Linked DNA regions of Homo sapiens: region 1 is linked to region 2. Evidence: fine-mapped expression QTL. A gene starts in region 2. The other region holds a variant in brackets. All regions are shown on one strand. Distances are from middle to middle. Region 1 overlaps CLEC17A (C-type lectin domain containing 17A). Region 2 holds the start of CLEC17A (C-type lectin domain containing 17A).

Region 1 (4,390 bases), 22 kb after region 2:
TAACATTTTTTGTAGAGATGAGGTTTTGCTATGTTGCCCAGGCTGGTCTGGAACTCCTGACCTCAAGTGATCTGCCGCCTTCACCTCCCAAAGTGCTGGGATTACAGGCATGAGCCACTGTACCCAGCCTAATTGGTATTTTTAGACCGTTTACATTTAATATAATTACTGATTGGGTTGGATTTAGGTCTATCATCTTATTATTTTCCTGTATGTCGTGTCCCTTCTGTTTTTTATCCCTCTGTTTCATAGCATTATTTGTATGAGTAGTTAAACAGTTTTTTTTTTTTGAGATGGAGTCTTGCTGTGTTGCCCAGGCTGGAGTGCAGCAGCATGATCTTGGCTCACTGCAACCTCTGCCTCCCGAGTTCAAGTGATTCTCCCGCCTCAACCTCCCGAGTAGCTGGGATTACAGGCGCCCACCACCATGCCTGGCTAATTTTGTACTTTTGGTAGAGATGGGGTTTCTCCATGTTGGCCAGATTGGTCTCGAACTCCTGACCTCAGGTGATCCACCTGCCTTGGCCTCCCAAAGTACTGGGATTACAGGCATAAGCCACCGTGGCTGGCCAAAACAGGGCTTTTGAAGGAGTTAAATTAGGTAATGTAAATGAGGCAGGTGCAAATCATATTCCCTAACTCAGTTTCACAAGAAATACAACTACATTTCCTTTAAATTACTCATTTTAGTTTCTCTCTTGAGTTCTCATTCTGCTAGAATGGTGTACATTTACTCTCAGTCAATTGGGTTCTCCCATTTTACTTCTAAATGGGGACAGCTTTTGTGGGGTCAAGGTGGAAGGGAGCACACATCGGGTCTTTGCTGTCTTTACTCCAAACTGGTATCTACTGGGACATCTACAGACTGAATGATCCTGGGAAGGTTACTTAACCCCTCTGTGCCTCAGTTTTCTCATCTACAAAATGGGCATAATGATAATACTTGCTTCAGTGAGTCATGATAAGGATCCAATGAGACAATCTGTGCAAAGTAGTATAGCTCACTTTTTTTTTGAGATGGGATCTTGCTCTGTTGCCCAGGCTGGAGTGCAGTGGCATGATCTTGGCTCACTGCAGCCTCCATCTCCCAGGTTCAGGCAATCCTCCTGATTTAGCCTCCCAAGTAACTGGGACTATAGTCACGTGCCACCACTCCCAGCTAAGTTTTGTATTTTTTTTTTTAGTAGAGTTAGGGTATCATCATGTTGGCCAGGCTGCTCTCTAGCTAATGATCTCAAGTGATCTGCTCCCCTTGACCTCCCGAAGTGCCGGGATTACAGGAGTGAGCCACCGTGCCCTAACCCATAGCTCACTTCTTAATTCATTAATTCAACCAACATTTCCTGAGCACCTACTATGTGCTGGAGACTATTCTACATATTGGGGATCCAGTGATGACCAAGACATATGAGTTCCCTCTTCTTAAACTGCTCTGATTTTGGTGCCTAGAAATAGCAAGGACTCTCTAAATGTTAAAGAGTCTTCTGGTTTTCTGGGGCTCAGACTTTGGGCCATCTAGGCTGCCCCTGAGGCATCCCACTCTTCCATCAGCAAAGCCTTTTGGGCCTGGAGGTCTTTTCCTGCTGTTCTTGGGCACAAGAGATCTTTCTGCTCCTCCTATCCCATTCTGGGGTCTAAGACACTGTGAGGCCTTCTAAGCCTCCATCTAGTCTGATGGGACAGGAAGACCTTTCCGCTCTCTGATTTTCTGACACCTCCCTGGGGCTTTACCCAGGAAATAGTCCCCAGGTCCCTTCTGCTTTTTAGAGTCTCCAAACCCATCTGGGGTTTTTACCATCACCTGAAAAGCTCACCGGAAATGAGATACCAGATTCTTCTCTCTGGGGCCTGCCATGTCTACACATTTATTATTTCCTTCCCATGGTGACTTTACCTCCCCACATTTTTTTTTCCATCAAAGCAGAAATTTTATTACCCACATTCTTTGACCACAATGCTATAACGACAGAAATATTTTCTTTTACAAAAATTTCAATCACCTTAAGAATGTTTAAAGTCGGCCGGCTGCAGTGGCTCGACTGTAATCCCAGCACTTTGCGAGGCCGAGGTGGGCAGATCACCTGAGGTCAGGAGTTTGAGACCAGCCTGGCCAACATGGTGAAACCCTGTTTCTACTAAAAATACAAAAATGAGCTGGGCATGGTGGCGCGTGGCTGTAATCCCAGCTACTCAGGAGGCTGAGGCAGGAAAATCGCTTGAACCTGCGAGGCGGAGGGTGCAGTGAGCTGGGATCACACCACTGCATTCCAGTCTGGGAGACAAAGCAAGACTCTGACTCAAAAAAAAAATTTTTTTTTTAAAGTCACCAGATAACTTTGGATTAAAGAAGAAATCAAAACTGCAAATAAATAAAAGCAAACATCAATTGGCATTGCCTATAGTAGAACACATGAAATAGATTATAGTAAAAAATTCTTAAAACACAAAGAATTCCAGGATGTGGAAAGCTGGGGCGAGTGTTACTCACACCCAAACAGCAACAATAGCCAGAATAACTACAAAATCATAACTTTTTCTAAACTCATTAGCTAACTGAGATCACCTGGCAGTCAAAAAGTCTAAAATGGGCTGGGCATGGTGGCTCACGCCTGTAATCCCAGCACTTTGACCTCCCCAC[A/AT]TTTTTTTTTTTGAGACGGGATTTCGCTTTTTGTTGCCCAGGCTGGAGTGCACTGTCGCGATCTCAGCTCACTGCAACCTCCACCTCCTGGTTTCAAGCAATTCTCCTCTCTCAGCCTCCCGAGTAGCTGGGAATACAGGCATGACACCACGCCTGGCTAATTTTTGTATTTTTAGTAGAGATGGGGTTTTGCCACGTTGGCCAAGCTGGTCTCGAACTCCTGACCTCAGGTGATCCACCTGTGTTGGCCTCCCAAAGTGCTGGGATTACAGGCATGAGCCACCGCGCCCGGCCACCTCCCCACATTTTAAGGAATCTTGGTTTGGTGGTAAGTTGGGTGAGTTAGATGTGATTTGCATATAGTAAAATGCACAGATCTTTGATGTATGTTCAGTGAACTTTGACAAATGCGTACACCTGTGTAACTGTCAAACTAACCAATATTTATAATCTTTCCACCACCCTAGAAAGTTTTTTCATATCCTTTTTCTAGTTAATCCCTCCCTGCCCCCTACTTGCAACCACCAGTCTAATTTCTTTCACCATCAATTTGTTTGGAGAGGAGTTGCTTCTAACTATATTTTCTTCCCTATCTTTTATCTCTGTCATAAGTCCTTTCTTTTCTTCCAAAGACCTGGGATTTTGACTTTTTTCCGGGACAGAGGCTTGCTCTGCTGCCCAGGCTGGAGTGCAGTGGTGCATTCATAGCTCACTGCAGCCTTGAACTCCTGGGCTTAAGGGATCCTCCCACCTCAGCCTCCTGAGTAGCTGGGACTATAGACACGCACCACCACGTCTGGCTAATTTTTAAAAATTTTTGTAGATATGGGGTCTCAGTATGTTGCCCAGACTAATCTCGAACTCCTAGTCTCAAGCGATCCTCCCTCCTTGGCTAAAGTGGTGGGATTACAGATATGAGGCAGCGTGTCAAAAGCCTGGGCTTTTGAAATACCAAAGCTAGGAAACCTACTTTTCATCTTCCTTCCTTCTTTTCCTGGAACAATGAATTCTTATGTTGTTTGGATGCAGATTAAGGCTACCGAGTAGCACAAAAGTGCAAGAGAAACCAAAAAAAATCAGTTACTATTGCTAAAAATGTCACTTAAATGTTATAATGCTACCTACTAAGACGTCCACAGTATGAGGCTCTGCACAGTGGCTCATGCCTGTAATCCTAGATCTTTGGGAGACTTACAGTGACCTTTGGGACATGCAGTGAGCCATGATCACACCACTGCACTCCAGTCTGGTTGACAGAGTGAGACCCTGTCTCAAAAAAAAAAAAAAAAAAATTAGGCTGGATGTGGTAGCTCATGCCTGTAATTCCAGCACTTTGGGAGGCTGAGGCAGGTGAATCAACTGAGGTCAGAAGTTTGAGATCAGGCTGGTCAACATGGCGAAAGCCCGTTTCTACTAAAAAATACAAAAATTAGCCGGGCGTGGTGGCGGGTAGCTATAATCCCAGCTACTCGGGAGGTTGAGGCGGGAGAATCGCTTGAACCCAGGAGGTGGAAGCTGCAGTGAGCTGAGATCGCACCACAGCACTCCAGCCTGGGTGACAGAGCGAGACTCCCTCTCAAAAAAAAAAAAAAAAAAGTTAATCCTCACAACACTACCAGGAGGTAGCTACTGTGAACCCATTTTACAGGTGAGGAAACTGAGGCACGGAGCAGTTCGCAGATTGCATGAGAAAAAGTAGCACGATTATTCCCACCACACATGCTACAGTGGGAGGAAGACATTGATCCTGTT
Region 2 (4,390 bases):
GGCTCTATGACATCAGGCCATGTAAGAGGGGAAAGCCCAGCCCCTAGAGTCAGCTTTGAATGGAAAGGGAGGTTAATCTGCTGCTGCCCTCCTACCTCAATTAAGACCGGGGCTACCCCATTGCCCACGTGCGGTGCGGGGGAAGGTTTTTCCATTTGTTAGAGGCTCTCACTTGCTTATACTGAGCCTGTCAGGTAAGAAATACATTCTATTTTGTTTGAGACACTCTTGTTCTGAGTCTCAGTTATGGAAACCCAACCTAATGTTCCCCATGGGCCTGATGAATGTTCCTTGTTGTTGAAGCCAATCTGAGTTGCATTTCCTCTTACTTTTAGTAAAAACCTCTACAAAGGGAAATTGGGGTCTTGCCCCTTGGGGTACATATTAGTTTCCTATAGTGACTCTAACAAATTACTCATAAATTGAGTGACTCGGAACCACAGAAATAATAATTATTATTATTGTTACTATTTTGAGATAGAGTCCTGCTCTTTTGCCCAGGCTGGAATGCAGTGGCGAGATCTTGGCTCACTGCAGCCTCCGCCTCCCGGGTTCAAGCGATTCTTCTGCCGCAGCCACCCGAGTAGCTGGCATTACAGGTGCCCGCTATCATGTCCAGCTATTCTTTTTTTTTTTGTAACTTTAGTAGAGATGGGATTTCATCATGTTGGCCAGGCTGGTCTCGAATGCCTGACCTCAAGTGATCCACCTGTCTGAGCCTCCCGAAGTGTTGGGATTACAGGCGTGAGCCACCGCGCCTGGCCAGAAATGGATTATATGGATTATTTTATTTTATTTTTTTGAGATGGAGTTTCACTCTTGTTGCCCAGGCAGGAGTGCAATGATGTGATCTCGGCTCACTGCAACCTCTACCTCCCGAGTTCAAACGATTCTCCTGCCTCAGCCTCCTGAGTAGCTGGGATTACAGGTGCGCGCCACCATATCTGGCTAATTTTGTATTTTTAGTAGAGATGGGATTTCACCATGTTGGCCAAGCTGGTCTTAAACTCCTGACCTCACGTGATCCACCCACCTCGGCCTCCCAAAGTGTTGGGATTACAGGTGTGAGCCACTGCACCCGGCCAGATTATTTTATAGTTCTGGAGTCAGGAGACCAACATCAGTCTCACTGCTGAAACCCAGGTGTTCATGGGCTGGGCCATGCTTCTTTAAGAGGCTGCAGCGTGAGAATCCATTTTCTTGCTGTTTCCAGCCTCTGCAGTTGCATTCTTTAGCATATGGCTCCTTCTTGCATCTTCAAAGCCAGCATAACTTTAGTGACCACATTGCCTTTTTTTTGTGTCAAATCTCCTTCTGTTTCCCTTCTACGAGGACCCTTGTAATGCCATTTTTTTTTTTTTTTGAGACGGAGTCTCGCTCTGTCACCCAGGCTGGAGTGCAGTGGTGCGATCTCGGCTCACTGCAAGCTCCACCTCCTGGGTTCACGCCATTCTCCTCCCTCAGCCTCCCGAGTAGCTGGGACCACAGGCACCCGCCACCACACCCAGCTAATTTTTTGTATTTTTAGTGGAGACGGAGTTTCACTGTGTAAGCCAGGATGGTCTCGATCTCCTGACCTCGTGATCTGCCTGTCTCGGCCTCCCAAAGTGCTGGGATTACAGGCGTGAGCCACGATGCCTGGCCTGTAAAGCCATTTAAGGCCCACCTAGGTAATCCAGGATAAACCATCCATCTCAAGACCCTTAATTAATTAATTAATATTTAATGTTTTTTAAAAAATTAATTTATTTATTTATTGAGACAGAGTCTCACTCTGTCACTCAGGCTGGAGTGCAGTGGCGTGATCTCGGCTAACTGCAACCTCCATCTCCCAGGTTCAAGCGATTCTCCTGCCTCAGCCTCCTGAGTAGCTGGGATTACAGGCGCCTGCCACTGCGCCTGGCTAATTTTTGTATTTTTAGTAGAGACTGGGTTTCACCATGTTGGCCAACCTGGTCTCGAACTCCTGGCCTTAAGTGATCCATCCACCTCAGCCTCTAAAAGTGCTGGGATTCCAGGCGAGAGCCACCACACCAGGCCAGTTGTCATTATTCCTTCTGTGCGTGAATCCAAACTGGGGAGAAAGGCTCTGTGTGTATGTGTGTGTGTGTGTGTGTGTGTGTTTGTGTGAGCACGTGTGAGGTCTGAGGGCTTCCTGTCAAAATGAATTTGCATGTATTTGACTTTGAAAGGAAAAGGGAACTGAGAGAGCCCCCAGACGCCTGAGTCGGAGAGACAGGGGGCAGAGGTTGCCAAGCCCTGGCTGCCACTTGTCAGGTTCCCTGTGCTAGACATGCATAATCTGTATTCCATCACTGGGTACCCGGACCCACCAGGTAAGGCCCCGGCCAGGCTGGGGCTGGGGCCTAGGTGTGGTCAGGACCCAGGGTACAGAATCCCCACCATGGGGCAGCTGAGGCAGAGACCAGGGCTTGAGGGATGGAGGGAGGAGGGAATGGCTGGGCTCTGACTTGCCTTTCCCCTGGAAGGGACCATGGAGGAGGAGGAGGAGGATGATGACTATGAGAACTCAACACCTCCCTACAAGGACCTTCCTCCCAAGCCAGGTAAGAGGACTTTTTGGAGTGTGACCTGGGGGAATACAGGGAATGGGGTCTCCAGTGGGCATTGGTTGGGCATTGTAGACACATAGTCAGTCTCCTCTGTATCCAGCCCATGCCGGGCACTGTGGAACCCACACCCTGCCCAGGACGACCTGTCAGTCTGATGGCGGAGGTGGGTTTGGGCACAGTCTTGGTGAGCAGGGTGAGAGAGGAGGGGTCAGGAGATTGGCAAAATCCTTGGGGGACTGAGGGCTCAAATAGAGGAAGGGACTTTGGGGTGGGGCTTGAGGGATGAGTAGACATATCTTAAGAAGAGAAGTCCAGGAGAGAACAGTTAGGTGCAAAGTCTCTGAGTTACAAAAGCTGGTGCTTGAGAAACTGGGAGTGGACTGTGGGCTCCCAGTCTCCTCACCTTTCTACCCAAAGCCCAGGTTTTATTTAGACTTGGATCTCAAACCCAAGGCATAGCACAGGGTTCAACAAGAGACTGATAAGTGGTTGTTAAAGTGGAGGTTTGGGCCAGCTGCAGTGGTGTGCGTCTGTAGTCTTGATACTTTGGGAGGTCAAGGTGGGAGGATCGCTTGAGGACAGGAATTTGAGACCAGCCAGGGCAACATAGCAAGACCCTATCTCTGCCAAAAAAAAAAAAAAATAGAGGTTTGGGCCGTGTGTGGTGGCACATGTCTGTAGTCCCAGCTACTTGGGAGGCTGAGTCAGTAGGATCACTTGAGCCCAGGAGTTCTGGGCGATTGTGAACTAGGCGATCGGGCGTCTGCACTAAGTTTGGCATCAATATGGTGATGTTTTGGGAGCAGGGGACCACCAGGTTGCCTAAGGTGTCTGAGGAGGGGTTTCCAGGTTGGAAACGGAGCAGTTCGACACCCCCAAGCTGATCAGTAGTGCGACTGCTCCTGTGAGTAGCCGCTGCACTCCAGCTTGGGCAGCATAGCGCGACTCCACTTCTAAAAAAATAGAGAAAATGAAACCGGAGGTTTTTGAGGTATTCCTGAGTTTACTGCCACCAGGGACCCTGAGGCCATGAGAGATCCCGGAGGCCCAAAACAGAAAATCCCTGAGATATGCTGATGGCCTGGTCCTGGTGACCTTAGACAGGAGCCATTCTGTGAGGGCTGAGGCTGTATATCCCCCATCTCTGAGTCCAAAGTGGGGCCACCTGGGAGGTCCAGAAATATGGTGGGACTTGCCTGAGGTAGGAGGTGACCTGTGCTGTGTTGTTTCACTGCCCCATTTCCAATTTATGGTCCTAATGTGACCCTCAAGCCCTGGGTCTACATATATGACCAACCAATCCCATTCCCTTCTTCAGGGCCACGTCTGCTCCAAAAGCACAGTCCTGTCCCCACATCCACATGCAGCCCAGCATCCACTCTCCAATCCAACTTCATCACCCTCTCTACTATAGCCCAGCCTCGACTCCTTCCCCATTCCCAAACCTGGCAAGGACTCTGTTCTTCATCCTAACCACATCATGACCTTACCCACATCCATCCCTGTCCCCAACCCATTTTCCATCCCATCCCACCCCATCCCAACACCAATTCTAATCCAAACCCCACCTCATCTTCATCCCCATCCTGAAACGCAACTGTTTTTGTTTTTTAAAATCCCCTCCATCCCCTTCCATCCCTTCTCCTTTCAATCAAACCCTCAAAGAGACACACAGAGAAGAGAACTGTGAATTGTCTGCTCATTAGTTTTTATGAGAGGAAACCAGAGAATTTAAAAAAAATATTTTTGAGACAGGGTCTTGCTTGTCACCCAGGCTGCCCTGAAGTGGTGCAATCATAGCTCACTGCAGCCTTGAG

Evidence for each region. PIP is the estimated chance that this variant, and not a neighbour inherited with it, causes the effect.
Region 1: its variant is the best candidate, but not a certain one, in a credible set for the expression of CLEC17A in whole blood (INTERVAL, PIP 0.72).

The regions. Positions count from the first base shown.
Region 1 is chr19:14,602,464-14,606,853 of GRCh38, forward strand. All of the region lies in intron 12 of CLEC17A (C-type lectin domain containing 17A), which reads left to right. It also overlaps a transcript of ADGRE3 not described here. Among named protein-coding and RNA genes, the nearest start is that of SNORA104, 18 kb to the right of the region's middle. RefSeq lists an enhancer at 1,422-1,671. The variant A/AT (reference allele first, on the strand shown) is at 2,639.
Region 2 is chr19:14,580,868-14,585,257 of GRCh38, forward strand. It overlaps CLEC17A (C-type lectin domain containing 17A), which reads left to right and starts at 2,217. Exons shown (of 14, transcript NM_001204118.2): 1 at 2,217-2,336; 2 at 2,490-2,567. The coding sequence starts at 2,294. It also overlaps the pseudogene RN7SL337P. RefSeq lists a silencer at 1,847-1,990 and an enhancer at 2,332-2,501.